3 separate regions of the Homo sapiens genome follow, and regions 1 and 3 are each linked to region 2. Evidence: fine-mapped expression QTL. A gene starts in region 2. Each other region holds a variant in brackets. All regions are shown on one strand. Distances are between the middles of the regions. Region 1 overlaps PSMC1 (proteasome 26S subunit, ATPase 1). Region 2 holds the start of NRDE2 (NRDE-2, necessary for RNA interference, domain containing). Region 3 overlaps NRDE2 (NRDE-2, necessary for RNA interference, domain containing).

What was found. PIP is the estimated chance that this variant, and not a neighbour inherited with it, causes the effect.
Region 1: its variant is fine-mapped to the expression of NRDE2 in tibial nerve (GTEx, PIP above 0.99). The same link has a PIP of 0.9 or more in subcutaneous fat.
Region 3: its variant is fine-mapped to the expression of NRDE2 in whole blood (TOPMed, PIP above 0.99).

Annotation. Positions count from the first base shown.
Region 1 is chr14:90,267,225-90,277,921 of GRCh38, reverse strand. It overlaps PSMC1 (proteasome 26S subunit, ATPase 1), which reads right to left. Exons shown (of 11, transcript NM_002802.3): 8 at 9,509-9,698; 9 at 8,374-8,525; 10 at 7,570-7,724; 11 at 2,493-5,649. The coding sequence ends at 5,515. NRDE2 (NRDE-2, necessary for RNA interference, domain containing) reads left to right here. Exons shown (of 14, transcript NM_017970.4): 14 at 1-10,062. Among named protein-coding and RNA genes, the nearest start is that of PSMC1, 16 kb to the right of the region's middle. The variant T/ATAAAAT (reference allele first, on the strand shown) is at 6,862.
Region 2 is chr14:90,326,869-90,337,565 of GRCh38, reverse strand. It overlaps NRDE2 (NRDE-2, necessary for RNA interference, domain containing), which reads left to right and starts at 5,625. Exons shown (of 14, transcript NM_017970.4): 1 at 5,625-5,725. The coding sequence starts at 5,662. RefSeq lists a silencer at 5,392-5,541 and enhancers at 5,692-5,871, 10,688-10,697.
Region 3 is chr14:90,292,887-90,303,583 of GRCh38, reverse strand. It overlaps NRDE2 (NRDE-2, necessary for RNA interference, domain containing), which reads left to right. Exons shown (of 14, transcript NM_017970.4): 6 at 459-864; 7 at 2,212-2,345; 8 at 5,204-5,324. Among named protein-coding and RNA genes, the nearest start is that of NRDE2, 34 kb to the left of the region's middle. RefSeq lists a silencer at 485-779. The variant AG/G (reference allele first, on the strand shown) is at 4,504.

The DNA.
Region 1 (10,697 bases), 60 kb after region 2:
AGGATGTCTTCCCCAGGCTGGTGAGCAGGAGATTTTGCTCTTGTGTTGAGACCCGCAGTTAACGCTTGGTGTTCTGGCCTGCACGCAGTGTGTGGCAAGTTCCCTGAGTTTACCTCGGCGGCGATGCCTCCGCCTGGAGCTGGAGGGGCAGCGTGCCCTGGGGCTGCTGAAAAACTCAGGCCTGTGGAGTCAGAACCCGCTCTTCAGCAGGTCCCAGGCCACTTGAGTGTGGAAGGCTGCCCGGGGCACTGGCAGCCTCTGGGGGAAGCCTGCTCCCAAGCCGTCTAGGAGCCGAGCACGCTGTACCGCCAGCCCCAGCCCTGCCTGCATGAGGGGCCCGGCACGCTTGTGCAGCAACGCTGCTTACACTATGAAGGCCAAGGCTGGCCTGGTTCTGGTGTTGCATTCGAGGGCTGTGAACAGAATGAAATGTCAACATCCATTTTTCAGACTTGTTCTGCCTCCGAAGAGATTTTTAGTGCTGAGTGATTTTCACTATTAACATATGGCTGGAAGGAATGGTTTTCTTATCTTCTCCGAGCTCTAGACTGGCTAGCTTCTCTCTGGCTTTTTTTGTTTTGTTTTCCTCTCTTTAGAATTGCTGTATACTTGTATCTCCTCAGCACATTTAGAAAAGCCAGTGTATAATTTTGGCTGGCAACTGACGGACGCAGCGGGCAGCAGCAGGCAGGGCAGCGCACGAGAGCACCTCCCAGGGCACGGTGGGAAACTGGCCAGCCCAGCCCCACTACTGCCCTCTCCTGCTCGTCCCCAGTCCCTGAGCTACAGGTGGCTGTAGGCAGAAGCCCACCGGGTGTTCCTTAGCGACAGACAGGTCGTCAGCTGCTCCCCTTGATGCCTTTTCACAGAAACAACCCTCAACTTGAGGAAGTTGAGAGCTCCACTCCGAGGTGGACTTGCTCCCCCTCCCTGAGAGCTAACTGGCTTGAACTGTCATGAGTTCCTGGCTGCCCACAAAGAGGGACCTTCTCCACCCTTGTCCTCTGCGTGGGGCAGACATCAGCCAGACATGTCACCGACCTGATTGGGGGCAGGGAGTAGGAAGTCCAGGACCAAACCATGCTCCCCATGACAGCAGCTGGCGCCTCAGTCCCCATCTGACTCATGTCTCTTCTCATCTGGTTCAGAACTTAGAAGGGCGTGGCCTCTGATCAGCTGGTTCCCTCCAAACCCCAGTGGCAACCTGTCCCTTGAGAGCCAGGAATGGCTCTTAGCAGTGGGCAGTGAGCCCCCGAGAGGATAAAGCGGCTGCTCGAACAGATTGCGAGCACATTACTTGCTGCATGGGAGGAGGTTTAAAACAAATCAAAGATTCCTTGAGGGCATTTTACAGAAAACAAGATGTCAAGAGCATCACTGTTGTTATTTAAAAGCCCATTTGAGGCCAGGCGCGGTGGCTCACGTCTGTAATCCCAGCACTTTGGGAGGCCGAGGCGGACGGATCACGAGGTCAGGAGATCGAGACCATCCTGGCTAACATGGTGAAACCCCCGTCTCTACTAAAAATACAAAAAATTAGCCGGGCGTGGTGGCTGGCGCCTGTAGTCCCAGCTACTCGGAAGGCTAAGGCAGGAGAATGGCGTGAACCTGGGAGGCAGAGCTTGCAGTGAGCCAAGATCGCGCCACTGCACTCCAGCCTGGGCGACACAGCAAGACTCCGTCTCGAAAAAAAAAAAAAAAAAACAGCCCGTTTGAGATTGCTGACATGAACTTCTGAAAGATGACTACGTGCCTCCCAAGACTAACCGTCAGCTTGGAGGGCTGAGAAGGGGGTTCCCAGCTGGAGTCAAACAGTGGCTCATGTGTTTCATCAGGAACGCTCGTCATTTCCCCGAAGGAGTCACTGATCACATCAGACCACAGGGGTCGGCCCACCTCGGGTTTGGGACAGTGTTCTTTCCTGGAATGAAGCAGTGGCAATGCCTCTGGCACAGGATTGCTGGGCCTGCAGGAGGCCAGGAGGCACCTCTGTGCTGTGTTCCCAGTAGGAGGAGGCAGCTACTACTTGTAAGGCACACATATCATTTTGCATTGGAAAAGTGAAGATAGGCTTGCTGCAGAGGGAGTGATGGGAGAGTTCACCTTAAATTGTTCTACTGAGGAAGGGCTCCAAAGAGCCAGTGGGTTTTCCGCAGGCAGACGGGGTTCTCCCTGTCCGGCTCACCAGTGCAGGAAGCCAGGGAAGAAATTACTGTGGGAATTCTGTTATTTCACAAGCACTTCATACCTGCATCCCTGCACTTGGCACCGCAGGCCTCAGTGACCAGCTGCCGAAACGGTAATTTCAGCATTTTGGTCAGTAAGCAAACTGGAGAAGCAGCTGGGGTGGGGCGCAGTTCAGCCCGCTACCCTGACACTCTAGGCCCTGGCATTTGCTTTAGCTGCTTTTGTAGAATTGACATGAGGGAGACTGTCCCTCTAGAGGAAAACGCTCAGCTATTACCAATGAGGAAAAGGCAATACTGATGTGCTGGGGTTTTTTGTTTTTTTTAATCTCAAACTTAGGAAAAGATGCAAGTGCGTTACAAAGAATTTTGTTTCCTGAACCGTGTGAGTCAGTTGCTGAGAGTCTGCTACCCGCCCACGATACAGACACTGAACAGGAAGTCAGCATGGACGCAGTACTCCTAGCAGGTCCTCAGGCCCAGTCATGTCCTCTAGGAAAAGGATCCAGTTCAGGAGCAGGAGCTGCACTTGGTTGTCATCTCTTTGGTCTCCTTCTGATTGGAAGCTTTTTGACTTCCAAGACGTGGATACTTTTGAAGTGTTCTGAATTTGTAGAATGTTCCTCAGTTTGTGTTTGCCTGGTGTTTCCTCAGCACTGGATTCAGGCTAAGCATCTTTGGCAGGAGTGTGACAGCACTGACACTCTTGGGTGGCACGTACTTTCAAAGTGCCCATTACTGATGATGTGCATTTGACCACTTGGTGAAGACGGTGTCTGCTGGGCATCTCCAGTGTGACTTTCCCTTTCTAACTGAACAGTGTTTTGTGGCAGACTCTCAAAATCTGTAAATACCCCTTCCTCAGCAAACTTTCAGATCAATTCATATGTATTGGGGTGTGTGTGTGTGTGTGTGTGTGTGTGTGTGTGTGTGTGTGTGTGTGTGTGTAGTTCCCTATTTAAAGGGCTATACTGTATTCCATTAATAGTAACTGTTTGTTAGGATGCTCAGATTGTCCCGAGTTTGGCCAGTGGAAGCCCCTTCACATAGGCTTCGGTGTCCTTAGGACATGTCCTTATCATTCCTTGAGCACTCCCTTGCTTTCTGGCAAAACAGACTTTGGGTTCATCCTGTCCTTTCCCTGCCTAGCCCCGGAATCAGCCCTCACTCCTTTTAGTGGAGAATAATACTTTTAGCAGCAAAGGTCTGGGTCTAGGGGTGCTCACTGCAGTTGGGGTGTCACTGTTCCCAGGTGCTCCCAGTGGACAGAGGTCGTTCTTGTTTTCTTCTTTCTGTGTCTAACTCCTCAGAGAAACCTGGCTCCCACTGTCCTGTTTACCTGCCTGACTGCCTCCATACATAAGCAGCCTCCCTCCCCTGCCACCACCCCGTCCCTGCAGATGCCTTCCTCACCCACTTGGGCTCTCATACTGCACATCAGGCTGCCCACACTGACTCCCCCTATCGGACCACCCCAGCCCTGCACATACACCCCACACGGATGCCAGCCTCACCCTGCCCATGCTGAGTCCCCGTGCTGTGGTGTTCCTCCACATGGACAGCTCCACACCCTACTTGGGCTGACACCCGCCCTCCCCACAAGCACCCCGTCCTTACCCTGCACTGGGCCACCCCCACGTGTGGATGTCCTCTGTGGTAGGCAGAGTGGCGCCCCTAAAGATGGCCACACCCTAAGCCCTGGAACGTGTGAATGTTACATGGCAAAAGGAACTTTGCAGATAAAAATTAAGAAGATTGTAAACTTTAAAACAGGGAAATTATCCTGGATCATCTGCATGGGTCCAATGCAATCACAAGGATCCATAAGAATAGAAAAGGCAGGCAGAAAGAAGGGTCGGTGGGAGAGAGGGACTGGGCCTGCTGCTGCTGGTGGAAAATGAAGTGCCACGAGTCAGGAGGGAGGGTGGCCTTCACAGACTGGCAAAGGCCTCAGCTGGCAGCCAGCAAGGAAATGCTGACCTCAGCTGGCCCACAACTCCAAGAAATTAAATTCTGCCAACAATAATCCTCAGCAAGGAAACGGATTCTCCCTTAGAGACGCCAGAGGGAACGGTCCTGCCAACAGCAAGACTTTAGCCTGGAGACACTCGTGTTGGACTTCTGACCTACAGAACTGAGATAAAATTGTGGTTTTTATTTATTTATTTATTTATTTTTGAGACGGAGTCTTGCTCTGTCGCCCAGGCTGGAGTGCAGTGACGGGATCTTGGCTCACTGCAACCTCCGCCTCCTGGGTTCAAGCGATTGTCCTGCCTCAGCCTCCTGAGTAGCTGGGACTACAGGCACCTGCCACCACGCACAGCTAATTTTTGTATTTTTAGTAAAGATGGGGTTTCACCATGTTGGCCAGGCTGGCCTCAAACTTCTGACCTTGTGATCCGCCTGCCTCAGCTTCCCAAAGTGCTGGGATTACAGGCGTGAGCCACCGTGCCTGGCCAAATTGTGCTGTTTTTAAACAAAGCCTGTGGTAACTTGTTATAGTATTAACAGAAAACTAATACACACTCCTCATTCAGTGTGGGCCCTACAACCCACACCAGGCCACCTGTCAAGGGAACGCTTACCTTGATCTGTCCCACTTAATAGCTTTAGGCCTGATTTGTTCAGAAAGAGAAATGACGGAAATAGACGGAGAAAGGGAAGGGGAAGTTCTGACATGTTTCTGAACACCTTGAAAGGGATGAGATTTCTGAGCCCAAGGGCTCAGAAGGGCTTTCAAGATATCTCTAGGAATCCTCAGTCTCTTGGGAACACCAGTAGTTATTTTCTGCCCTCAGAGTGCTAAGAACATGCATGGTCCACAAAACTTCCAAAAAGGAAAGCTGTACTTCCTTTGGAAGCAATAGCCACATTAACGCAGCCTTTATTATTTAAACAACGAATATCCCTGGCTCTGTGGTAGTGACCATTTCCCACTGTAATTACCGTTGAACGCCAGCTCTGGGGGTGTGATGTGGCGAACGCATAGTGAGGTCCACACTCCTTGGGACCGCAGCCTGAGTTCCTGTCCAAAGGCTTCCCTGTAGCTGGGTCCACCCACAGGCTGCTGTTGAGCGGTAGGTGTGTGTGGAGACTGCAGAAACAGGAAGTGTTTGTGAAAGAGCACGCTTTATTGGGAAGCAGACTGCTGCACAGTGACCAACAGGCCACCCAATGGGCACTTACACATCGTACTCCAAAAGACACAGGATGTTTTGCTAATAAAAATCAGTGGGAACAGGGATTCCTCTGGGCAACTCCCCCAACCTCATCCCTTTCAGGGATTGAGAAATCTCCCAACCATTTTCCTGATGACAGCCATGGTTCATTAGAGATACAGCCCCTCAGGGGTGCCTTCCTGTTTCTTATAAAGAACATTTTCTTTAGATTTTTTGAAGTCTTCATTTGTTACTTTCATTCTACGTTCTCTTAAGGCCATCAGACCAGCTTCTGTACAGATTGCCTGTAAGAAAGAAGAGTGTGTTCAGAAAGTGACATACTCATTTTTATTCTAACAAGGAATTCCAAAAAACCTATTCTGAGGCCAGGCGCGGTGGCTCACACCTGTAATCCCAGCACTCTGGGAGGCCGAGGCAGGTGGATCGCCTAAGGTCAGGAGTTCAAGACCAGCCTGGCCAACACGGTGAAACCCCATCTCTACTAAAAATACAAAAAGTTAGCCAGGGACGGTGGCAGGCACCTGTAATCCTAGCTACTCGGGAGGCTGAGGCAGGAGAATTGCTTGAACCCGGGAGGCAGAGGTTACAGTGAGCCGAGATCGCGCCACTGCACTCTAGCCTGAGCAACGAGCGAAACTCTACCTCAAAAAAAAAAAAAAAAAAATCTGTTCTGAAATAAAGCATGAGACACCTAGACTAAACACAAATTGCTTATTTGGGAAAGATTTGATTTTTAAAAAAAATGTTTTAAGCATCCTATTTTCTGAAAGGATGTGAAGTGGCTTAAACTGGGAGTTACTGTAACTAAGACTGACCCAAGGGTCAGGGCTGTGGGTTCTAGTTTTGGCTCAGGTTCTAACAAGCTATGTGGCTTGTACAACACCACTTTTGTTAAAGAGAATAATATTCCTAGGAAATAAACAAAATTATGCCCTGAAACTTAGAGGCAATTGACAGTATATGTCTATTTCATTTACTTATAGTCATAAAAGAACATGTATTCTGGTTAGATACTGTAAGTGGCAGTATCTATACTATGGAATAATACTACAGAGTATAGCATTTATTCCAATATATTTAATTTCTCAGTAATTACTGGCCCAAAGTAAAAGAAAACAATAACCCATGTTACATGGGTTACTGTTATTGTTTTAGGCCTGATCTGTTTAGAAAGGAAAGAGAAATGAAGGAAATAGATAGAGAAGGACAGCAAACAAACATATTATGTGGGTTACTGTTATTGTTTTCTTTTTCTTTTGGCCAGTAATTACTGTGGCAAAAACAAGATGTGGCAAAAAACACAATCCTGGCACAGAAGTTTGTTTGGTGATGGCCATCAGGTTATTTACTTCAAATGGTTCGGGTGAAAAGAAAGTTTTGTGTATAGAAAGAGAAAAAGCAAACAGGTAAAATGTTAACTCTTGGCAAATCACTGTGCTATTGTTGCAACTTTTTTGAAGGCTTGAAAATTGTCAAAGTAAGTTCTTATCTTAAAA[T/ATAAAAT]TTTAAGATCTTTCAATTTTTAAAAAAGAAGATAGATTTTACTTGCCAACAGAGACATCTAGTTCTCTAGGACTAACTGCCAATGATCCGTGGGCTCAGGGCAGGTGCTGGCCTGGAAAGGCACTGCTTGTGCTGTCCCTACCTAACCATGGCATTTATGCCCAACGAAAACCCAGCTCTTTCCAGGAAAAGCAGGTAGAACCCATATTCAACGCTGCCAGACCTTGCTGTAAATTCTGGTCAGCTGGGAGGAAATGTCCTAACTCATGTACATTTGTCATAAAACCAAGAAGTATAATCTGGTACAACCTTCCAGAACACAGATTGGGAGATGAATGCAGCGGGTGCTTGGTCCCCACTCTGCGGCTCTGGGGAGAGTTCTCCCAGGACATACCCTTCCCCTGACCTGGGACTGAGCAGCTACATTTGACACACCTTGAGAAAGTCACCTGGGCCTAAGGCTTAGTACCAGCGACTCAGCCTTGTGGCTCCAGGTGATTTAGCGTCATTCACTGCATAAAATGATGCATTAAGAATGACTTCAATATCAAGCACATATACCATTTGGATGTAATCGTAAACCAATATGATGATTAAAATACAGACACCCACCTGTCCAGGCCAACCACCATCCCAAGAGCACATATAGACTCTTTCCTGATTGACGGCCACATTCCCAGAAATAAGCTGACACGGCTAGGCTCTCACCTTGATGTCAGCACCAGAGAGGTCATCTTTAGCCATGATCAGGTCGTCCAGGGTTACATCATCAGCCAGCGTCATCCTGCTTGTGTGAATCTGAAAGATGCGCTTCTTCGTCTTTTCATCAGGCAGGGGGAACTCAATCTTCCTGTCAATGCGGCCTGCAGGTACAAAGAGATTTGAAGTCACACCAACATCCAAACCCAGGCTCGGCCATGGCTCAGAGGCCTCAGCCCATCTCCTTACATACGAAGTTTCAGTCGGACAGAATTCTGTGGGAAGGATGTCTAAATTTTAAAAAGTAAACATATATTTTTGTAGTTTGTAGATTTCTACATTTGAATTCTCTTCATTTAAAAGAAACTCTCTCTGCTTTGGTACCTTCAGAAATAAATGAAAGGAGCAATTCCTGAGTGAAACTGGGCAGACCTATTGTGTTAAAAACATTACAAAAGACAGCAAACAAATCACTGTTTCTTCTGATGCTACCTGAATGTAAAAAGGACAAATCCTACCATCACATGAATTATTTCTTCCAGAAAAAGCAGCAAGTTCTTGAGGCTAAAAAGGGAATGTTATGGAAAAGAAAAGACAAGACATAAGACTGGAATTCAAAGGGCCAAGGTGCACAGACCATATCATGCTCTGTTTTAACCCTCATCTCAAGAGGACCTATTTTTTTGTAAATTATCCTAAGTTTCACTGCAGTATTTGCTTTTTTATGTATCATTTTATAGGCCTCCCAAAGCACACTTAAACACAAATATATAAACACATTAATCTCCATGATGAAACCAAAGCAAATTTAACCTGGTCTGATAAGTGCTGGATCCAAAGTTTCTATTCGGTTTGTGGCCATGATAACTTTCACATCTCCCCTAGAATCAAATCCATCCAACTGGTTCAGCAGTTCCAACATTGTTCGCTGAATTTCTCTCTCACCACCAGAATTGGAGTCATATCTTTGGAAAAAAAAAAAGGGAAGGAATGAAGACTCAACTGATCGCCTGCTCAAGGGGAATTACAGCAAAGACCTCATTGTGACAAAACACCTTAACAAACATTCCTGTTTCAACTCACATGGCACTCCCTCAATTATGCTCGGAAAAAATAAATTCAGCACCCCTTGCCATGGTCTGAATGTATTTCCCCAAATTTATGTGTTGAAACTTAATCCCTACTGTGTGGCTAAGAGATGAGGCCTTTTGGAAAGGGCTAAAGGCATGAGGCAGAGCCTTATACAGCATGAGTTCCTTCTAAAAAGAGAAAAAGGCCTTATACAGCATGTATTCCTTATAAAAAATGCTGCAGGGAACTAGTGTAGGCCCTTTTTGCTCTTTTGTTTGTCCCCTGAGCATTTGTCTCCTCTGCAGAATAGGTGCCATCTCGGAAGCAGAGAGCAGCCCTCACTAGACATCAATGCCAGTGCCTTGATCTTGGGCTTCTCAGCCTCCAGAACTGTGGGAAATACATTTCTATTCTTTATACAAATACCAGTCCTAAGGTATTTTGTTTAGCAGCACAAATGGACTAAGACGCTCCCATCAGCCAAGTTACAGATCATATTTTTTCATAGCAGTTTCTGTGTCTGAAATTGTATCATTTATTCTGTTTCCATGTTTGGTATCTGATCCCTACAACCTGTGAGCTCCTCCAGGGCAGAGACTTGTGCTCACAACTGTGTCCCTAGAGTCCAGATGGTCCTGGATCAGGGCGGGTGCTCAAGACATGGTTATTCATAACTGACCAATCTCTCCAGACGTTCACAGTTACTGGGCAGTTGTTAGCTGGCTCCTGGGAGAGCAGAGCCTAAAGCATGCATGGAAGGCCACGCACAGCAAGAACTGTGGCCATAGGGAGAGCCCCCTGAGATTGCTCATTCTCAAGAGAAGAGCTATGCGGTGTTCCCTACTAAACAAGGCAAAATAAGTATGAGAAAGTCTACCTTTTTGTCCCAATGGCGTCAATTTCATCAATAAACACGATGGACGGTGCATGTTCTTCAGCAACTCGGAACAATTCCCGTACGAGTTTGGGCCCATCACCTAGGTACTTCTGAATAAGTTCAGAGCCAACCACTCTCAAGAAAGTGGCTGAGGTTTGGTTTGCTACTGCTTTGGCTAACAAGGTTTTACCTATTTTGGATGAAAAAGATAAAAAAAAAAAAGACACCTTAAGTGCCATTTTAACTTAAAAACTCGTATCATTACCACCTTAAATGGACACCAAAAACAGGCGGGCCCTCATGCTAAGGCATGGCACCAATTCAAGTGTCACGACATTCCATTCTCCTAAGTAGATAAGAGGACATTTAGAAAAATCTACTAACATGTTTGGATTATCCTTAGCTATTTTGCTGAACTTATGATAACGTCAGAAAATACTTTTTACTTGGTTATTTTCCAACCTTGACCCAGTTTCCCCTGAAAAGCTGCGAACTATAATTACCTGTACGAAGAATTGCTTCATTCCAGTAATGAAATAAATCTCATTTTTTTCTCTGGTTGAGTCTGTCTTGGGCCCCTTCAAAGTTGCATACATTAACCTGACCCATCCAACCCAGGGCTGTAGAGCCAAAGTAAACTCCTAGGAAACCATCAGTGCTGGAAAAAAGGGTCTGGGAATCCTAGCTTTGGCCCTAAGGAGATACACGAAGTGTTCCTGAGCTCCAGGCATGCAGTGCCTACTGCTCCAGAAAAGTAGCTACTGGGTGGGCTTGCTGCCAGCTCAGACAGCTGAGACAGGACCAGCTCTTGATGAACGCCACAGTGAGAGCTGCTGTGGCATGCCCTTCCAAGGGAGAGGCAGTTCCTCCCACTGATCTCAGGGAAGAGCTCAAACATCATTTCCAATACTGCTCTACTTGCTGATATTTCTGTTTCAGGTTAAAAACAAGAGTCAGCTGGCCAGGCGCGGTGGCTCACGCCTGTAATCCCAGCACTTTGGGAGGCTGAGGCAGGAGGATCACCTGAGGTCAGAAGTTCAAGACCAGCCTGACCAACATGGAGAAACCCCGTCTCTATTAAAAAAGTTACAATATTAGCCAGCACATGCCTGTAATCCTAGCTACTCGGGAGGCTGAGGCAGGAGAATTGCTTGAACCCGAGAGGCTAAGGCAGGAGAATCGCTTGAAC
Region 2 (10,697 bases):
TTATTCTAGATGGCGGTATAGTTATTAAGTGTTATTGGTGTCATTCTTCTCTAATTTCTGCATAACCTTACGTATTTTAGCAGGTTCTGGAGTGCGTGAATTGTGAGTTAGGCATAAATAGGCTGGTTTAGCTATGACTGAAGATCTGTTACTTGGGATTGTGTCCACATATTGAGACATTTCCAACCTGAGACCCCCATCACCCCAAAACAAAACAAAATAAAATAAAACAGAAAAAAGATCACACCAGTGAAGTGGCTCAGGCTCTTTTATTTCCTTGCTGATATTTCTGTCCAAAGGGCACATTTTCTTTTGTTTGACTTCATAGGAACTACCAGAAAATTCCTAAAGATTGATGGAGTTGATAGACCCGTTTCTCCAGTTTTCTTGATCAGTGAGTGAGGATTCTTTCCCTCTTAAGGTGAATGAAGTTTGTTTATACATGTTCTGAGTACACCATTTTAAAAGTGTCATTTGTCATTCGAACTATTAATAATTGGAGTACCCTCAGGTTCTGAGTTTGTGACTTTGAGTGTGGAAATGGTATCATTTATTTATTCATTCACTTGTTCATTTTGTATCATTTAGGACTCTTGGTAGCAAGTGGCAGAATTTGTTTACTGAAATGTGAGATGTATTATAATGATATTGATATTGGGTTTCCTAGAACCCAAGCATAGGAATGCAGCAGAGCTCCAGGGAGAATTAGAATTAGAGTTCCAAAATCCCAGGGCCCGTCCTGTCCAGCTCACTCCTGGTTTTATCTTCTCTCTACAGGCAGTTTACTCTGCTTCTCCACCAGCTCCTGGACTATTATATCTTGCAGTCTAGACACACAAAGACAGACAACTTTTTCCTTTTCAGTTCTAGTTTCAAAATTCATGGAAAAGAACTTTGCTTGGCCTGGCTTGGGTCAGAGCTGGGTTGAGCACCTATCAACTAAGGACATGACCGAGCTGGGTCATGCACTTACCCTAACCTGTCAGATGGGGCTGGGACAGCCAGACCACATTGTACTGATAGGACTTCTTGTGGATTCAGAAAGGAGCCTGCCAGTTAAACAAAATAAAACATGTTCACTACCTATTCCTTTTTCCTTTTTTAGTTTTACTTAAAAAATGATAGAGACGAGGTTTCACTATGTTGCCCAGGCTGGTCTCGAAGTTCTTGGCTCAAGCAATCCACCTGCCTCAGCCTCCCAAAGTGCTAGGATTATAGGCATGGGCCACCATGGCTGGCCCCCTATTCCTTTTTCTATAATATCCTCTTCCAAAAGTGAGTGGGAATTATGTATGCAGTATTTTGCCAGCAAACAAGTACTGAGTACCTACCTATTTTGTATCTAGCTGCCTCTTGCCGATCCTTTTGTTCATATCATGTCTTCTGGAATAACCTAAAGGTTGTTTTCTATAGTTTTTAGCTCTCACTCATACCCACCTCTTTTCCGTTCTTTTTTTTTTTTCCTTTTCTTTTCTTTTTTTGAGACAGGGTCTTGCTTTGTTGTCCAGGCTGGAGTGCAATGGTGCGATCATGGCTCACTGCAGCCTTGATCTCCTGGGCTCAAGCAATCCCCCTGCCTCAGCCTCCCAAGTAGCTGGGATCACAGGTATGCACCACTATGCCTGGCTAATTTTTAACTTTTTCTGTAGAAACAGCATCTCACTTTGTTGCCCAGGCTGGTCTCAAACACCTCATCCTCCCACCTTGGCCTCCCAAAGTGTTGGCATTACAGGCATGAGCCACTGCACCCAGCCTCTTGTTTGTTTTTTATGGACAGACTAGCTGCCTGCTTTATTAAGATCAAAACTCTTATCCAACTCCTCTGCAACTAAAACAAAGCCTCTTTTCACATTTCTCTCCTGCAGGATTTTTGTTTTTGTTTTTGTTTTTGTTTTTCCTTTTCCTTCCTGCCATCTTCAGGGAAAAGATTCACTCATGTCAGGGTCCAGAGGCGATCAAGATCTGTGACAAATACAGGCTAATGAGAATACCCCAGAGAATGAGATAGATGCAAAACAGCAACTTAACAGTCTAGAGTGAGTTATTTCTGCCACAAAGAAGAGAGATACTTAAAAGTGGTTGAGAAATTCAGTCCCTTCCTTTAGTCAAGCTATATACAAAGCCAAATCATTATCTGAAAACATCTTTGTTTATTCTGAGAAATCCCTGCCATATGCACTGGAAATACCCAAAGCCTATAGATTGAAATAGTAATAATAATAATAATAATAAAGTGAGTTGTTTTTATTCTTTCTGCGATTGTTTTTCAATGCAGAGAAGACTACTCAAAAGTTTACTTTTAGTTGACTCTAATAATAAAAAGTTTGCATAGGTCTAGAAAATTACGGCAATAGGTCAGGTTAGCCCACTGCCAATTGGTATGACCTATGCATTAAGAATGATTTTTACGTATATAAATGTTGAAAAAATAGGCAAATAACATTTTATGACATGTGAAAATTGTATAAAATTCAAATTTCAGTGTGGTTGCGACCACATGTCTTTTTTTTTTTTAGGTGGAGTCATGCTCTGTTGCCCAGGCTGGAGTGCAGTGGCACGATCTTGGCTCACTGTAACCTCTGCCTCCCAAGTTCAAGCAATTCTCCTGCCTCAGCCTCCTGAGTAGCTGGGAGTACAGGTGCCTGCCACCACTCCCGGCTAATTTTCGTATTTTTAGTAGAGACGGGGGTTTCACTATGTTGGCTAGGCTGGTCTCAAACTCCTGACCTCAAGTGATCCACCCGCCTCAGCCTCCTAAAGTGCTGGGATTACAGGTGTGAGCCACTGCATCCAGCCAATACCATATGTTTTATGTGACTCTTTCCAGAAAAAAATTTGCAGACACAGTGTTTAAAAGATTGGCATCCAATGTATTAAAAACAAATTGAAAACCCTTGTTTGTTCTTAAGCTTTTAAGAACTTGGTCAGTTACACACCTGTGATACCCCCACCATAAACAAGAGTCAGAATATTTCCATCAAGCCCAAAACATTCTCCACACCCCTCTGTGGAATATCCCTCTCTTCGTTCCCAGAGCAAGGGAAACACCGATCCACTCTCTGTCACTATATATTAATTTGTATTTTCTAGGATTTTGTATAAAGAGAATAACACAGTAAACACTCTTTGTGCCTGGCTTTTTATACCCAGCATACCAATTTTGAGATTCATTCATGTTGTATGTATCAGTAGTTTGTTCCTATTGTTATTATTATTGTTGAACAGCCATTATTTATACTCATTCTAAGGCTTCTAACTTCTTGTCCAAAAGCTTTTTTCAACTAGGGAGGGTGAGCTTTGCTCATGGTGTCTATTTCGTGAGCTCAGAGCTGCCTCGAAATGGAATCTTCAGCCTCCCTCATGCTCCTGCAATAGGACCCCATTATTCTTATAAAGCTAACCAATTACACTTACAAATATGGCGAGCTTTAGATTCTCTTGGATATCCTGAAACTGCTTAAACCTCATTAAGATTTCAATTTACTGCCGGCCATGGTGGCTCACACCTATAATCCCAGCACTTCGGGGTGCTGAGGCAGATGGTCGAGACTGGAGTGAGCCATGATCGCACCACTGCACTCCAGCCTGGGCGAGAGAGGAGATCTTGTCTCAAAAACAAAACAAACACAAAAAGATTTTAACTTAAAACCAGGAGTCTGTATCAGTTACTTGATTATACACTTTCAGTTGTTCTTATGAGGAGGGTCTCTTGAGCAACATTCTCTTATACATTTGTAAGTACACAATATACCTAGTATACCCAGATTCCTTTGTATTACAGAAACATTATTATTATGGTTTTAATTTCTTAAAACTTCCATATTAATTCTTACTTTTCTGGGGTGGAAAGATAGGAGGCATTGGGATAGACTATTTCCATCCCAGTTACCTGAAGTGATCTGCTAAGAAAGACAAATGCTGCCCCAATTAATTGAGGTAACTTAGAGTCAAAGATTTTGGCAGAACCTGAGATTTAAAGTTGAAGACATACAGGAATTACTGCCCCTATTGTCATACTAAGCTCCTTTTTGTAAGTACTCTGCCAGGGACTTCAAAGCATTAAGGGTGTCTATTTTGGACTCATAGAACCTAATTCTTATGCAGGTCTGCAGACTTCATCAGAGTCCATCCATTCCTTGATTAGATGATTACATTTGCATCTCTGGTTTATAATGTATTTCCTAACTAAAGATCTTTAACTCCCTAGGATCCCAATAAATATATCTTCATTTACCTATCTATTTTCACTTGCAAATATTTCAGTATATATCTCTAATATATAAGAACTTTAAAAAGTAATCTCAGGCTGGGTTGGGGGGTGCTCAGGCACAGGCACCCAGCACTTTGGGAGGCAGAGGGGGGCAGATCGCTTGAGCCCAGGAGTTCGAGACCAGCCTGGGCAACATGGTGAAACCCTGTCTCTATTAAAAAAAAAAAAATTAAGCCAGACATGGTGGTGTATGCCTGTGGTTCCAGCCACTTGGGAGGCTGAGGTGAGGGGATTGCTTGAATCGAGGAGTTCGAAGCTGCAGTGAGCAGAGATCGTACCACTACACTCCAGCCTGGGTGGCAGAAGGAGACCTTGTCTCAAAATAAATAAATAAGGGTCACCTCAGTGACATAAGTACTTTAGTACATCTAACAGAATTCACAAGAATTACTTGTGAATTGCTTGTACTCTGCCTACCTTCTTATTTCTCCATCTATCTTAAAAAGGTCTTTTTACAGTTTGTCCAATCAGAATTATAATGAGGCCACAAATATGTTGTATTTGCTTGATGTGTCTGTAAGATCTTCGTATCTATTACAATCTCCTGCCCTCTTAAAGCCCTTGATATGTTAAGGAAGCACGGTTGTTTTCTATAATTTCCCATATTCTAGATTTGGCTAATTGTTTCTTGGTAGTACAAAGTCTTCTAAGTTGTTCCTTTACTCTCTATATTTCTGGTAGCAAGTGTGATTAGATTTTGGGTGGGAGGAACCGGGGTCAAGAATGCTTCACAGACAGGTATTTCCTAACTATCAAAGACCCTTGAACTTGATGGGACTTTCCATTTTTCCTTGTTCTGGGGTATTTAATATGGTAACCTGATTGAAGTTCGGATATCTCACATGACTTTGAGCCGAACTTGCAGTCGTAATTCACATAATAGCTAACACATATTAAGTGCTTTTCATGGGCCGGACTCAATGCTAGGCCCTTTATAAATATGTTCATTTAATCTTCTCAATATTTTGCAGATAAGGAAAGTAATGCTTAGAGCGTTTAAGTTGACCCAGTTAGCAAGGATGGTGTGAATTTAGGGGTCGAACTGGAATCCCAATTTCCTTAGTCCCTTTCGCGGTCAACAATTCCCTTCTCCGGTTTTCGCAGTTCCGGTTCTCACAGGGTCCCAACCACTAGGAACCCGTCACTCCTCGCTCCGCCCCCCTTGGCCCCGCCCCACCCTGCTTTGCCCTGCCTCTCCCTGCCCCGCCGCGCCCCAGTCCCTTGACGACCCTCCTCTCTGGGCCCCGCCCCTCCCGCTTCGGGGTCAAGCCCCAGAGAGCGCCGCGAAAACCACATTTCCCAGAGTGCACCGCGACGGCAGGGGTCCTCAGACCGGCGCTCGCTCGCCGGCGCCATCCCTATAGAGAAGAACGGAGGTACGGCCTGTGGTCATGGCGCTGTTCCCAGCCTTTGCGGGGCTTAGTGAGGCTCCCGATGGCGGGAGCTCCAGGAAAGGTAAGCACACAAACGAGCCGAAGAAGGCACCTGGGGGGCTTAAGAGGCTGTTTCTCGGGCCCAGGTCTAGACTTTTGCTTTGGATTTGTGTATCCATTTGTATCCCAGAGTTCTCCGCGGCGCTGCAAAGCCTTCTGGGAAAGGCTCAATCCCTCCGAGGTCTGGGGCCCAGAGGCCTGTTCTGGACCAAGGTTGTAGAGTTATGGAGGGGTGGAGAAAGACCAGCAGATGCCCTGGAGCTGGGACTTCTGTACGATGTTGTTAGGTCCTGTTCTTCTTTTCGAGCCTCAGTTACTTCATCTTTAAATTGGGAATAATGATACTCGACATCTCGAGGAAACCCTTGATGCAAATGCAGAATGTTTTTATTACATATTACTTCCTTTCCTGTTATACTTATTTCTGAAATGCTTATTAGATTGGTATTACTTAGCGGCCTAGAGCTAGGGGATTAGTATCCAAAACCTAATCAGTTTCTCTCTGGAGGGGCACAGCACCCAGTGAAAATAACTAACATTTATTCTTGAGGGCCTAGTGTGTATCAGGTTATGGCTTTACACATTTTACTTAAGTCCCAGACATTTCCAGCAGAGCTGCATTGTTCAAAATTGGGGTACATAGTTCATTTAAGAAGTAATTAATCCTGGCCAGGAGCAGTGGCCCACACCTGTAGGTGGAAGGATAGTTTGAGCCCGGGAGTTCATGACCATCATGATCAACATAGCGAGACTCCTGTCTCTTAAAAAAAAAGCCAGGCGTGGTGGTGCACACCTATAGTATCAGCTCCTCAGGAGGCTGAGGTAGGAGGATTGCTTGAGCCCAGAAGTTTGAGGCCGCAGTGAGCCATGATCGTGCCGCTGCATCCTGCCCTGGGGTGGGGGGACCTTGTCTCTAAAAAAAAAAGAAAAAAAAGTAATTCTAAATTATGTGCCATATGTGACAGGGCGCAATTGAGTCTTACCTGTCTGTTATATCCTCTAATATAGTTCCTACACTTTCTGTAACGTTTCTCCTAATTTTTTTTTTTTTTTTTGAGACAGGGTCTCACTCTGTTGCCCAGGCTGGAGTACAGTGGCACTGTCATAACTCACTGCCGCCTCAGACTCCTGGGCTTAACTTCCTGCCTCAGCCTCATGAATAGCTGGAACTACTGGTGTGCACCACCAGGCCTGGCTAATTTTTTTTAATATTTAGTAGAGACGAGGTCTCACTGTGTTGACCAGGCTGGTCTCGAACTCCTGAGCTCAAGCGATTCTCTATCTGAGCCTCCCAAAGTTCTAGGATTACAGGCATGAGCCACTGCGCTTGTCCTATTTCTCATAATTGTGAGTAATTTCTTGTGTAAAATTGTTGTCTTCCCTTACTAGACTGTAATCTCTATCAGGTTGGGCAGTGTTTGTCTATTCATTGTAGCATAGTTAGCCCCTAGCACAGGTCCAAAGTATAATAGGTGTTCAATAAATATTTTCTGGATGTACAGATCGATAGTAGTTACTTAATAATTACGTGTTGCAGGAATGCATGAGTGCACCTAAAAGAAGTGTATAGTACAAGGTGGGATATTACAGATACCATAGGTGAACTGCAGGATTAATTACTTCTTTTTATTTATTTATTTATTTATTTTTTTTTTTGAGACCAAGTCTTGCTCTGTCGCCCAAGCTGGAGTGTAATTGTACGATCTTGGCTCACTGCAGCCTTCGCCTCCTGGGTTCAAGTGATTCTCCTGCCTCAGCCTCCCGAGTAGCTGGGACTACAGGCACTCACCACCATGCCCGGCTAATTTTTGTATTGTTAGTAGAGATGGGGTTTCACTGTTTTGGCCAGGCTGGTCTCGAACTCCTAACTTTAAGTGATTCGCCCACCATAGCCTCCCAAAGTGCTGGGATTACAGTTGTGAGCCACCACACCCAGCCCAGGAATAATTACTTCTAATAGAAGGTTCAAAGAAGGCTTTATGTAGGAACTAATATTTTTTTCTTTTACTTTTTTTTTTTTTTTTTTTGAGGCAGTCTCACTCTGTCACCCAGGCTGGAGTGCAGTGGCACAATCTCAGCTCACTGCAACCTCCGCCTCCTGGCTTCAAGTGATTCTTGTGCCTCAGTCTCCCGAGTAGCTTGGATTACAGGCATGCACCACCACACCTGGCTAATTTTTTGTATTTTTAGTAGAAATGGGGTTTCACCATGTTGGCCAGGCTGGTCTTGAACTCCTGAGCTTAGATAATCCGCCCACCTCGGCCTCCCAAAGTGCTGGGATTACAGGTGTGAGCCAACGTACCCAGCCTACTTTTTTTTTTCTTAAGTAGGGACAGGGTCTTGCTATGTTGCCCAGGCTGATCTCAGACTGCTGGGCTCAAGTGATCCTCCTGCCTCAGCCTCCCAAAGTTCTGGAATTACAGGCGTGAGCCACTGTGCCTAGCCAGGAGCTAAGTTTTGGATGGATCTTCAAGAGAGTAGGATTTGGACAAATAAAATGGGGGAAGTGTATACCAGGGCCTTCAAGTCCTGCAGAAGAAAAGTGTGAGAACTGCAAATCATCTAGTTTGTCTGGAGGTGTAGTGGCATAAAGAGGAGCCTTGGGAAATATGGTTGGGCTGGTGGTGATGGAGGATAGTGATCTTTAATAACATGTCAAAGCTTTATCCTTTTATTTTGAGAGGGGGAAATCGAACTTTTGCAGAGGAGTCTTACTCTTAAATAGTATTTATTTGACATCCTCTGGATATCTACAATCAGGAAAATGTGTGTAAAAGTATGTTTTATAAAGTATTGTCTTTTGAAAAAATATAAACACAGCATCATCTCTTGTAATGGAAAAAAGCCTTAATTCTTTTCTGGTCATTTTCACTTACCAGTCAGTGTTCAAATTTCACGAGATGTTTCAAAAATGGGATTTTACAGTTGGATTGTCCAAGTCAATTTCCAAAATACAGCCAACATTGCATTTTGTGGATATATGCCTTAGGTCTCTTTCAGTATAAATCGGTTTCTTCCTCTCCTTCATTCCATGTGATCGATCTGTTGAGGAAACCGTGTCATTTGTCCTGTAAATGTTTCCCACCAAATCCTCATAGTGTCACTTAACATGCTTCTGTATTCCAGTATTTCCTGTAAACTGGTATTTACCTCTAGTCAATTAATTAGATTGAGATTTAATCTTTTTGTTGAAAGTACCTCATTGGGGGAGCAATGCACTTGCTATGGAATCATTTCAGGAGGATGCCCTGTCTAACGTTCTCTGTTTTAGTGATGTTAAGATTGACCAGTGGATTCATGTGTTTGCAACCTGTTTCATCCCATATGAAGCAGCCCATGAACCTTACACCTAATGATTTTTGCAGCCATTTATGATTATTGTTTAGGTTCATTATTATTTCATTGAGGTTGCAAAATGGTTGTTTTCTAATTATATCATTCCTCCTGTATTTATTAACATCAATTATTCTATGAAGAACTATTGGGATACCCTGAATACAGTTTAGTTAGGCAGGAAAGACAGGATAAATACTTTTTTCTTTTTTTTTTTTTTTTTTTGGAGACAGAGTCTAGCTGTCGCCCAGGCTGGAGTGCAGTGGTGAGATCTGGCCCACTGCAACCTCCGCCTCTTGGGTTCAAGTGATTCTCCTGCCTCAGCCTCCCTAGTAACTGGGACTACAGGCATGCGCCACCACTCCTGGCTAATTTTTTTTTTTTTTTGAGACAGAATATCTCTCTGTCGCCTAGGCTGGAGTGCAGTTGTGTGATCTTGGCTCACTGCAAGCTCCGCCTCCCGGGTTCACGCCATTTTCCTGCCTCAGCCTCCCGAGTAGCTGGGACTACAGGCGCTTGCCACCACGCCTGGCTAATTTTTTATATTTTTAGTAGATAGGGGGTTTCACCATGTTAGCCAGAGTGGTCTCAATCTCCTGACCTCATGATCCGCCCGCCTCTGCCTCCCAAAGTGCTGGGATTACAGGTGTGAGCCACTGCGCCCAGCTTACTCCTGGCTAATTTTTGTATTTTTACTAGAGACAGAGTTTCACCATGTTGGCCAGGCTAGTCTCGAACTCCTGACCTCAAGCGATCCACCTGCCTTGGCCTCCCAAAGTGCGTGAGCCACCTCGCCTAGCCTGGGATAAATACTTGATTCATTCCTTTCGTTAGTTTCAGAATAATGAGTTGGGGGTCCCAGTAACTTCTAGAGGTGACCAGTGAGGTGTGAAGTTTTTTGTTTTCATTATGAAGTCATGAATTTTTAATGTTTATATTTCAATCCATTGCAGGTAGGCTTTTTTTTTTTTTCTTTTTTTAGAAATGAGGTTTCACTCTGTCGCCCAGGTTGGAGTGTAGTGGCGCAATCACAGCTCACTACAATCTCCAATTCCTGGGATCAAGCAGTCCGCCTGTCTCAGCCTCCTGAGTAGCTAGGACTGCTAGTGTGCACCACCACACTTGGCTGATTCATTTATTTTTTTAGAGATAGAGTCTTGCTACATTGGTCAAGCTGATCTTGAACTCCTGGCCTCAAGCAGTGCTCCCGCCACGGCCTCCCAGAGTGCTGGGATTACAGGCATGAGCCATCATGCCGGGCCTGACCCAATCATCTTTATTTAATAGCTTTCTTGCTTTCTGTCCTAAGAGATGTCCAGGAATCATCACTTACATTTTCTCTTGTGGCCTGGAGTTGGCCATTTCTCCAGGGAATCCTGGTTTCTTTTAGTGGAAAATGATATGGATATATGAAAACCACACACTGGGTTGTTAGGGGTATCATCACCACTGTGTTGTCATTACTTCTAGACTTTTTCAGTGGATGGAACCAGGAAGAGAAAAATACATCATGAATTCGTATTAGTATTTCCAGTCCAAATGTAAGATTATGAAGCTTTTACTTCTTTGATTTAATTTTTAAATTTCTTTATTTGTTCAAAATAACAGTATTAATGTGACTAATACTAACAGTTTCAGATTTTTTTATGGTTCTATTTGTT
Region 3 (10,697 bases), 34 kb after region 2:
CAAACAGAACAGGCAGAGCTCACGGAATTGTGAAAGAGAGAGGGCTGTTCAGTGTATTACCCAGTTAGAGCCATGCATTCTCTTTCGAAAACTTGTAGGTTTGTCTGAATCCCTAATTTTGAACCACTCATACAATTACCATATTTTGTGCCACATTTGGCCCTTTTATTGGTAAGGTCTGCTCTTCAGAAAAGACTTTCAAGGCATTGTATGCTAGTCATTGATGCAGAAATCAAAGCTTAAAATGGCAGAGAGTGGATAATTAAGTGATAAATACAAGATCAAACATATCAGGTGACACAAGCACTTTAGGATCCAGGTTTTCTTTAAAAGAAATAGTGGCAAACTGGTGGTTTAAGAAAGTCCCTAGGGGGTGGTAAGAAAATCAGTAAGCATTGTTGAAACTCAGGATCTCCCAGGTCCATTTGCATTTGTAAATTGGTGTTTTTGTTGTTGAGGACGAGGTCATGAAAAGTCCTGGCCTGTATGCCATCGAGGAAGGAGAGCAGGAAAAGCGAAAGAGGTCCCTGAAGCTCATTCTGGAGAAGAAGCTGGCCATTCTGGAGCGGGCCATTGAGAGCAACCAGAGCAGTGTGGATCTGAAACTGGCCAAGCTGAAGCTCTGCACAGAGTTCTGGGAGCCCTCCACTCTGGTCAAAGAGTGGCAGAAACTGATATTTTTGCATCCCAATAATACAGCCCTTTGGCAGAAATACCTTTTATTTTGCCAGAGCCAGTTTAGTACCTTTTCGATATCAAAAATTCACAGTCTTTATGGAAAATGCTTGAGCACTTTGTCTGCTGTTAAGGACGGCAGCATCTTATCTCACCCTGCGTTGCCTGGCACGGAAGAGGCCATGTTTGGTAAGGAGATAACCAGATCCAGTTACGTGGGAGGAGTTAGACTTTCTTTTGGCTTTACTTGAAAATGAAGATCTATTTTTGATTTATTCTAGAAAAAGTCTAAATTGTTTGATAGAACTGATTTTTTTAAAAAAGTATTACGACTCTTTTTGATAACAAATTTGCCCCCAGCTCCCAGGGCAGGTGGGGGCAATAGGGCCAGTAGAGTTAAGATATCACTGGACAAGGTTCTGCTGATTAGCCAAGTAAACATAGGCAAGTCTCTTAACTGCTTTGGCAGTCGGTGGCCTTATCTGTCGAGATGCATGTACCTGTCTCACCCAATTGTAGGGTCCCAGGCAGTAATGTCCGTGAGATGCCCTGACTGGGAACCACTGCATAAATAGAAGTTTTGGGTATTATTATGCTGTTAACATTTTTGGTGTGTCCTGAAGGAACCTGGAACATTAATTTTGACAGTAATGAGATGTTGGAGGCTGCATGTTATGCAGAGCCAGAGAGTATCACTTTTGACCTTGAATCCTGAAGGGTTTGCCCTTCACTGGCTCTCTTGTGTCCTTGGGCAGGTCCTCTTTGAGCCCCAGTTTCTCCATCAGCAACAATACTATAAACCTGCTTTACAGGACTGTGTTGCACAGTAAACGAGATAATCCATGGCGAGTCTAGCTCAGTGTCCGGCACAGAGCAGGCATTTATTTGATCACAACCCCTGTTATTGAGTATTAATTACTGTTGGCATCTAAAGATAGAAATACATTGCTCTCAAAATATAAGCATTTATCACACTGACACAGAGTCTTGAATTTGTCACTGTATGTGATCTACACAAATAGCTTAGTGTTATTTAGTAGCTGGAATTGTACCAAAAGTAAGATGAACTGGAATGTTCAGACATGGAACCTTGATTTGTTTACAGCCGACTCTGAACATAGGATGAAAGTTGCTGGTGAGTAATGCCATCTAGTGATCAACTGAATACAGCTCTTTGCTTTCTGATAAAAATCTGCTACGCCATCCTTTTTCTATAATTTTTCTTGTGATAATGAGCTGTGATTATTTGATAGCATTCAGACCAACCTCTTGACTTATTTTTATGTACTATATATAGTTTTTGTTGTTAATATTTGTGTTCTGTGATGCTTTCATACAAAAATTAGAACAAACATACTTGGATTATAATACTGTGTGAGACGCTTTAAATCAAGACATGTATCACAGCTTTGTAAATTAATAGTGATTGCAGGTGAAAGGTGTTCTCAATGTGTTAATTGCCTGTTTTGAGAAGTTAGGTTCTTTCCCTTTAACGGTATCAACCAGGCTTCTTCCCCTTTGCCCTCCTGTTCGCAGCACTCTTTCTTCAGCAGTGCCACTTTCTGCGGCAGGCTGGCCACTCTGAGAAGGCCATCTCATTGTTCCAGGCCATGGTGGACTTCACCTTCTTCAAACCCGACAGCGTGAAAGATCTGCCTACCAAAGGACAGGTACCCAGCTCTGCTCGCCTCATCTCTCTCTTCCTGGCTCTTTCTCTGGAGGGAGAGGGGGAAGGTGTGGATAATGAGAGGTGGTGTGGATAATGAGAGGTGGTGTGGTAGTGTTTTTAAAATATCATATCCTCCTTTATATCAGTCTGCTGAGGAGGAATTCTCAGAAATAGTCCAGTGATCTGAGGAAAGTTTTGTAATGAAAATGGTGAGATGTGGATAGGTAAAGAAGCTTCCCCCTCCTTCACAACATAAAGGCTCTCTGAGGACTCACCCTCCCACCCTGCCTGCCTGCCTGCCTGCCTGTGTTCCTCCTTTCCTTTTCCTTTCCCTGCCCCCTTCCCCTCCCCTTCCTCCTCCCCTCCCCTCCTCCCCCCCATCCCCTTTCTGCCTTTGTTTAAATGCTGATTGGCTCCCCTAGTCAGGGAAACAGTTGTCATGCCATTTTAAACCTTGTATTACTCTCTTCCACCCTTACACATTCTAGTTTGGGTCTTGCATCACTTCCTCAGTTAACCTTCTAAGTACCCACAATCTTCGCTAGAGTTGCAAATGAAATTACACAGAGATACCTTGTCAACAGTGATCCTTATTGGGGAAGGGTTAATCCTTTAGATGACAAGCGAGCATTGCCAATGTTTGAGATAAATGAAGATAAGTGAAGAAATAAAGAATTTTTATAGAGCTATGTATATAAGAAAATGTATCTTTTCCCTTTTTCCACTAAATAAAACTCAGTTTTCTACTCTGTAAAGATGTCTAGTGGAAGATAAATAGAATATATGAGTTTATGGTGAACATTCAAAAGTGTTTCTTGAGAGGCCAAGGCCTCCGTCATGTGGGAGTTTCATGAATTGCCAGTAAAGACCATTTTTATCATGATGCTACCTCTAGAAAAAATTGGATTAAAGAATTATACCAGTTAAATTGCTATAATCAATCATTAATAAACCATATAACAGAGTAATTTTAAGACATGCTGTGAGATTTTAAGAATAGGCTGTACTACAGAAGTGATTCTCAGCTGACTCTAAGGAACCTTGTGGGTCAGGATCAGAATTTCTCTCACCCCCTCCCCCTGCCCCTTTCCTAAGACCCTCTGTGATAAGAACAGAGTGATGGGTGGAGGGTTCTGCCTACAAATGTGACCCATCGAAGACCACTGCTCTAAAGTGTTGGGAGACCCCGATCCTCGTGCTTGAGGTTTTAAACACGAATAGCACATGTGATTCCAAAGCATTTACATGACAACTTTGGAATAAAGTTTCTTATTTACTAATATTCCATATTGCTTTTATAACTGAGAGACGTTGTTACCGTGAACACAGTAGCGTGATTTAACACAGGCAGGTCTGATATTACTGGTCTGCGTTTCTGTGGAATAAACAAATAGATTATACTCATTTATCACACTATTTAAAAAAAATTTTTTTTCTTAAGTAAACTTTCTTTCTTCACTCTTACAAGAGCCAGACCTCTAAAGAGGGAGCGTAGTCGTCCTGGTTCCCCTTTCTGAGGATGACTGACGTGTCAGGACGTTTGCCCTGCCCTGACGTGACTCTCCTGGAGGCAATACTCCTCCAGGCGTGTGTGGCATTGCCCAGGGCTCAGGCTAGATAATCCTGTGGCTCATGGCCCATGCTGTGCCCACTGGAAGCCTGCTTGTCCTCTTCAAAAGGTTTCTTACAAAAGCTTTCACTGAGTAGGTTATTGGCTCACTTTCACAGTCCTGTTTCCAGTTGATAACATGATCACGTTTCTGTTCATTGCTGTGTTCACATTCTGTTCCATAGGGAAAGATTTATTGCCAGTGAGCTGCTTACCACACACCTAATGCTCGAATGAATGAGGGAGGTGCTAATGGGGCCAGGCTTTAAAATGCAGACCTTTAGGCTGGGCGCGGTGGTTTAGGCTTGTAATCCCAGCACTTTGGGAGGCTAAGGTGGGCAGAGCACCTGAGGTCAGGAGTTGGAGACCAGCCTGACCAACGTGGAGAAACCCTGTTTCTACTAAAAAAACACAAAATTAGCTGGGTGTGGTGGCTCATGCCTGTAATCCCAGCTACTCGGGAGGCTGAGGTAGGAGAATTGCTTGAGCCCGGGGAGGTGGAGGTTGCAGTGAGCCAAGATCACACCACTGCACTCCAGCCTGGGCAACA[AG/G]AGCGAGACTCTGTCTCAAAAATAAAAATAAAAAATGCAGACCTTTTTACTCCCTGGTCGCCTGCCTTGTTCAGATCTGTGCCAACAAGCGTTTATTGAGTCCCTGCTAGGCAGTAAGTATTGTGCCAGGTGTTAGGAATATATAGTTACTTAAGATATGGTTGTGTCACGTAGCTCATGGTCTGTCTTGTTGGAACCTTCCTCTCAAAATATCTTGAAAGCGGCATGACTTTAGGAATTAGCTCGGGGGTCCAGTGATACTAGGTGAACTGGCAGTGCCACTGTCCCTGGTTAGACTGGCCTGGCAGGATAAGAACTAGGAAACTACTCCCTTCCTACCCATCTGGAGACCCTTCTTGCTGAACCTCAGCTGGTCTTTTTGTAACCTAATCCCGGGAGTGACCCCCCATCACTTTTGCCATATTTTGTGTGTTGGAATCACTAGGTCCAGCTCACATGCGAGTGTGAAAACCACAAGGCAGAGGTAGGGTCATGGGGGCTATCTTGGAAGCTGCCTGCCACGCTAGATAGATCTTTTTTCTATCTTGGGGTGTGTAGCATGTATCTACTTCAAAGACTGATGGCAAACATGATTTCAAGGATCATAAGCTTCTCTTATATCCACCAGCGCGGATTTTGCCCACTGACTCAGCAGTTTTATACAAGTGAGGTCTAACGTCCATTCTAAAATCTGAACAGGTGGAATTCTTTGAACCCTTTTGGGACAGTGGAGAGCCCCGGGCTGGGGAGAAGGGAGCCCGAGGCTGGAAGGCGTGGATGCACCAGCAGGAACGAGGTGGCTGGGTGGTCATCAACCCAGGTAAGTCACCTCTCATTGAAGACGTGTACTTCTGTTTCTTCTGGAATTTGTTTTTACATCCTCATGATTATTTATCTGCTTAAGCTATTTATCAGTAGCTTCAGAATATTGCACAAACATCAAAATGTCAAAAATGTTAAGTAGATGTCATGGGTTCCCCTTAGAAGTTTTAAAGCAGTGGACTTATTCCTTCAGTACATAATGCTTTGAGGATTTGAAAGTTTCTGTAATTTCCCTTTTTCCTTTTATAGGCTGCAACTGAAGAAGGAATCTTGTTAATAACTGCCCCAATCCTCATTCTTTTTTTTTTTTTTTTTTTGAGACAGAATCTCGCTCTGTCACCCAGGCTGGAGTGCAGTGGCAGGATCTCAGCTCACTGCAACCTCTGCCTCCTGGGTTCAAGCAATTCTCATGCGTCAGGCTCCTGAGTAGCTGGGATTACAGGCTTCTGCCACCATGCCCAGCTAATTTTTGTATTTTTGGTAGAGATAGGGTCGCCATGTTGGCCAGGCTGGTCTCTCTGGTCTCAAACACCTGACCTCCAGCGATCTGCCTGCCTCAGCCTCCCAAAGTGCTGGGATTACAGGTGTGAGCCACCACGCCCGACCCCATTCTTTTTTAGTGTGTATTTCAGACAGTCTTTTTGTTATCCTGTCAGTGTACAGACCAACAGATACTTTGAAAAATACCTTTTTAGGACTATTATAAAGTAATTATTACCTAGCATTTACATAACTGTCACTCTAAATGACCCCCAAATACTTTCCAGATTTATACTCTAATACAGAGCTGCCCAATAGAAATATAATGTGAGCCTCTTGTGTAATTTCAAATTTTCTAGTGGCCACATTAAAAAAGTAAAAAGGAACAGATGATGTTAATTTTGATAGTGTATTTTACTTAATCTAGTATATCAAAACATTTCAGTATGTAATTAGTATTTTAAAATTATTAACCAGAGATTCAGATGCCAATTGCATGCTTTAAAAAGAAAAAAAATTATTAACTAGGTATTTTGCATTCTTTTTTTAGTACTCTTTGAAATCTGGTGTGTATTTTACACTTTTAGCAAATCTCAGTTCAGACTAGCTACTTTTCTTTTTTTTCTTTTTTTTTTTTTTGAGACAGAGTCTTGGTCTGTTGCCCAGGCTGGAGTGTAGTGGCTCGATCTTGGCTCACTGCAACCTCCGCCTCCCAGGTTCAAGGGATTCTTGTGCCTCAGCCTCCCAAGTAGCTGGGATTACAGGTATGCACCACCACGCCCTCCTAATTTTGTATTTTTAGTAGAGACAAGGTTTCACTGTATTGGTCCAGGCTGGTCTGGAACCTCTGACCTCAAGTAATCCGCCCACCTCTACCTCCCAAAGTGCTGGGATTTCCGATGTGAGCCACCGCACCCAGCCCAGACTAGCTACTTTTCAAGTGCTTGATAGCCACATATTAATGGTGACGTATTGGACAGCACAACTCTAAGACATTCAGGAACTGCTTCACTCCCCGAAAGGCAGTTCCAGCATAGAGAGAGATCTGCCAGGCAGATGATGATTTCGTTGAAAGTTCTATAGGGAAAGAGTGATGGACAAGGACTCAGGAGATTGACTCCTTGCCTAGGCTCAGTGAGCCTCTTCTCACAGGTGTGACCTTTCTTTGTTTATTCATTTGCACCATGAAAACTTTGGATTAGGTATTGTCTTGCACGACAGTTCAGAGCTCCGGGCCAGGGAGCATCTCTATTACCACTAAGAAGCGAGAGGGGCCCTTCAGGTGTTTTGGGGTAACTCTCCTCTGGGCAGTGCTGTCAGGCAGTGATCATGCCTCACTTGGGGCTGTCAGAGTCTCAGCTGTTTAGATTTCCCTGGAGTGTTCTTTTCCAAAAAGAATGAGAACTATTCATCAGGCTGACCAGTGGTTTTATGTATGAAGAAAAACAGCCTGCATGAAACGGAAGTAGGTATTGCACTCAGCCACTGAGTCTGCAAGACCGCATAAGCAAAGGCCAAAAAAACAGAAGTCTGATTAGTAACTCTCCTCTCTGAGTGACTGACTTAGCATGGGTCTGTGTTTTTAGGCTTAGTTTTTTTGTTTTTTGGTTTTGTTTGGTTTTTGTTAGAGAGCGAGCCCATTACAATGCATAGTATCTGTTACACGGTTTGCTGTGTTCTGCATTTCTGTGACAATAAAGTTTTCATAGCAGTGTCCACAGACTAATTTTACTTCTGATAAGTTTCCAGATATCTAATGGTCACTTAAAATCAGGTGTAAAGTTAGTTTTCTCCAAAAGGGAATGCAAATGAATATCAAAACCTTGACTTTTAGCATCAAGTTAGAGACTTGTGTTGGTACTTACATTCTCTGCAAGCTTCTCACACATTTCCATTATGGAGAAACTTGCTGAATTTATGAATTTCTTTCTAATGAATTTAATGGAAGTCCTCCAAAAAACTAGAAGGGTCAAAAGAAAGGCTGAAAATTTTCTTGATTCCAGCAAACCTAATTGATAACAATTTTTGTTTTTATTTTATTTTTAACTTCTCTTATTTACCCTGAAAGGTTAGCGTTGAGAGGGTAGTTGATTTCATCCTGCAGTCAAGCATTTATCATAGCATGTTTCTTCTCTCTTGCCCTCACTTTCTGTTAGTATGTAGTTGTTATACATGAATGTGTGTCCAAAGCTCTGTAATCTTTTGAGTCCTTAATGTAGTAAATTCAGGTATCTAAGTCTGATGTATGACTCACAAAGGTAATTTCTCTTATAAGAGTTTTTCAGGGTGATTAAAGGATTACTTTAAACATAGATCTTTAGAAGAAGGTGATAAATACATTCAGTTTTCTTCTTTGAGAAACTCAGAAGAGCATTTAGGCAGAATATTGGTGGAATAATAGAATGCTAATATATACATTATGCTAATATATATGATCTATAATGCTAATATACACAATATATTATTATTATACTACGTATACATATTATGTGTTTTAAGTTTTTAAAAATGTTTTATTTTGAAATAGTATAGAGTCACAAGAAGTAGAAAAAATGTACCCAGAGGTTTTGTGCACCCTTCATCCAGTTCCTTCCAGTGGTAGTACCACAGTATAATGTCAGAACCAGGGAACTGACATTGGTACAGTCTGCAGTTCATTCACATTTCACCATTTTACATGCACTCATTGGTGTGTGTGTTTCTATGGTACTAGGCAGTTTCTGTCACGTGTGTAGCTTTGTGTAATCACTACCACAATCAAGATCAGACTGTTTCATCACTGCAGGGCTCCCTCACAGTATCCTTTCTTAGCCACGTCTGCCCCTTCCCCCTCCTAACTCATGGGAACCACTAATCTGTTCTCTCTCTGTTTTCCTGTTATCTCATGAAGGTTATATAAATGGAATCATAAGGTATATAACATTAACAAAATTTTTTAGTTGTAAAATATAATATAAAATTGATCATTTTTAAGTGTACAGTTGAGTGACATTAAGTACATTCACACTGCCATGCAGCCATCACCTCTATCGACCTCTGCAACTTTTTCATCTTCCCCAAGTCTGTACCCATTAAAGACAAATTCCTCACTTCTCCCTCCCCCCAGGCCCCAGCAGTCATTCTACTTTCTGTCTCTATGAATGTGACTACGTTAGGAACCTGGTGGATGTGGAATCATACAGTAGTTGACCTCCTGTGACTGGCTGATTCCGCTTAGCGTAGTGTCGTCAGGGTTCATCCATGTCACGCCAGGATTTCCTTCCTTTTTAAAGCCGAACACTTCTCCACTATGTGTGTATACCATCCATTTGTCAATGCACATTTTGGTTGCTTCCACCTCTGGGCCATTGTGAATAATGCTGCTATGAACATGGGTGTACAGTATCTGTTTGAGACTCTGCTTTCAGTTCTCCTGGGTAGATATTCAGCAGTGGAATCGCCTCATATGGTAATCCTGTGTCTAGTATGCCATGCTGTTTTCCATACAGCAGACGGCAGCTGCACCATTTTACATTCCCACCAGCAGGGCACCAGGCTTCCGATTTGTCCACATCCCTGGGAACAGTTGTGTTTTGTGTAACTTTTTGAGATTGGCTTTTTTAACTTAGCATAACTTCCCTGAGATACCTACAAATTGTTGCATATATCAATGGTTTGTTCATGTTGATTGCTGAGTAGTATTCCATTGTGTAAATGGACCACAGCTTAACTGTTCAACCTACTGAAGGATGTTTGGATTGTTTCCAGGTGTTGGCGATTATGCATGAAGCTGCTTCTGAGTATTAGCATATAGGTTTTTGTGTAAACGTAGGTTTTCATTTATCTGGGATCAGTGCCCAAGAGTGCAGTTATGCTAAGTGCATGTTTAGTTTTGTAAGAAACTGCCAAAATGATTTCCTGTGTGGCTGTACCATTTTGTATACTTTATTTTTTAACCTTGAACTTTACAGATAACTCTGGCTTTCTTCCTCTTCCCTTCTACATGTTCAGAGTTAGGAAACAAAGTGAAATAAATTATTGGATATTGATTTGGCTTTTTTAAAGGCAAGTTCTAGTGAGCATAGGTCATAATTAATTATACGGTCCCTGGCTAAAAATTCGGATGACTTAAGAAAATCTAAACTAGTGCCATCATCAAATGTCATTTAGCATTCTAAAACTGTGTTGTCTAATACAGTAACCTCTAGCCACATGTGGCTATTTAAAATTAAATAAAATTAAGAATTCAGGCCAGGCCTGGTGACTCATGCCCGTAATCCCAGCACTTTGGGAGGCCAAGGCAGGTGCATCACCTGAGATCAGGAGTTCGAAACCAGCCTGACCAACATGGTGAAACCCCATCTCTACCAAATACAAAAAATTAGCCAGGCATGGTGGCACATACCTGTAATCCCAGCTACTCAGGAAGCTGAGGCAGGAGAATTGCTTGAACCTGGGAGGCGGAGATTGCAGTGTGCAGAGATTGTGCCACTGTACTCCAGCCTGGGCGACAACAGCGAGACTCCATCTCAGAAAAAAAAAAAAGGAATTCAGTTCCTTTACTAGCTACATCTCAAGTGCCCAGTGAGTCACATGTGGCTACCCTGTTAATGCAGGTATGTAGGGCATTTTCATCATCACAGCGAGTTCTGTTGGACAGTACTGTTCTAGAGTATGTGTCATTTCCATTTTAATCACTATACTATTAAAAATAATTTGATTTGATCACCTTGTCTTCCTTTGCTTCCTGAGGACTTGATTGATTACAAAGAGTTCCTAAATGCCACTGAGTATCCTGGGAGACTGGCATGGCTCTTACACATCTTGGCATTGCGGGTGCCCAACAGTCCCTGACATAGCAGGCTGATTGAGTGGCGATGGTGGTTTTATTTGCTGATGAGGTGAAGAAGTC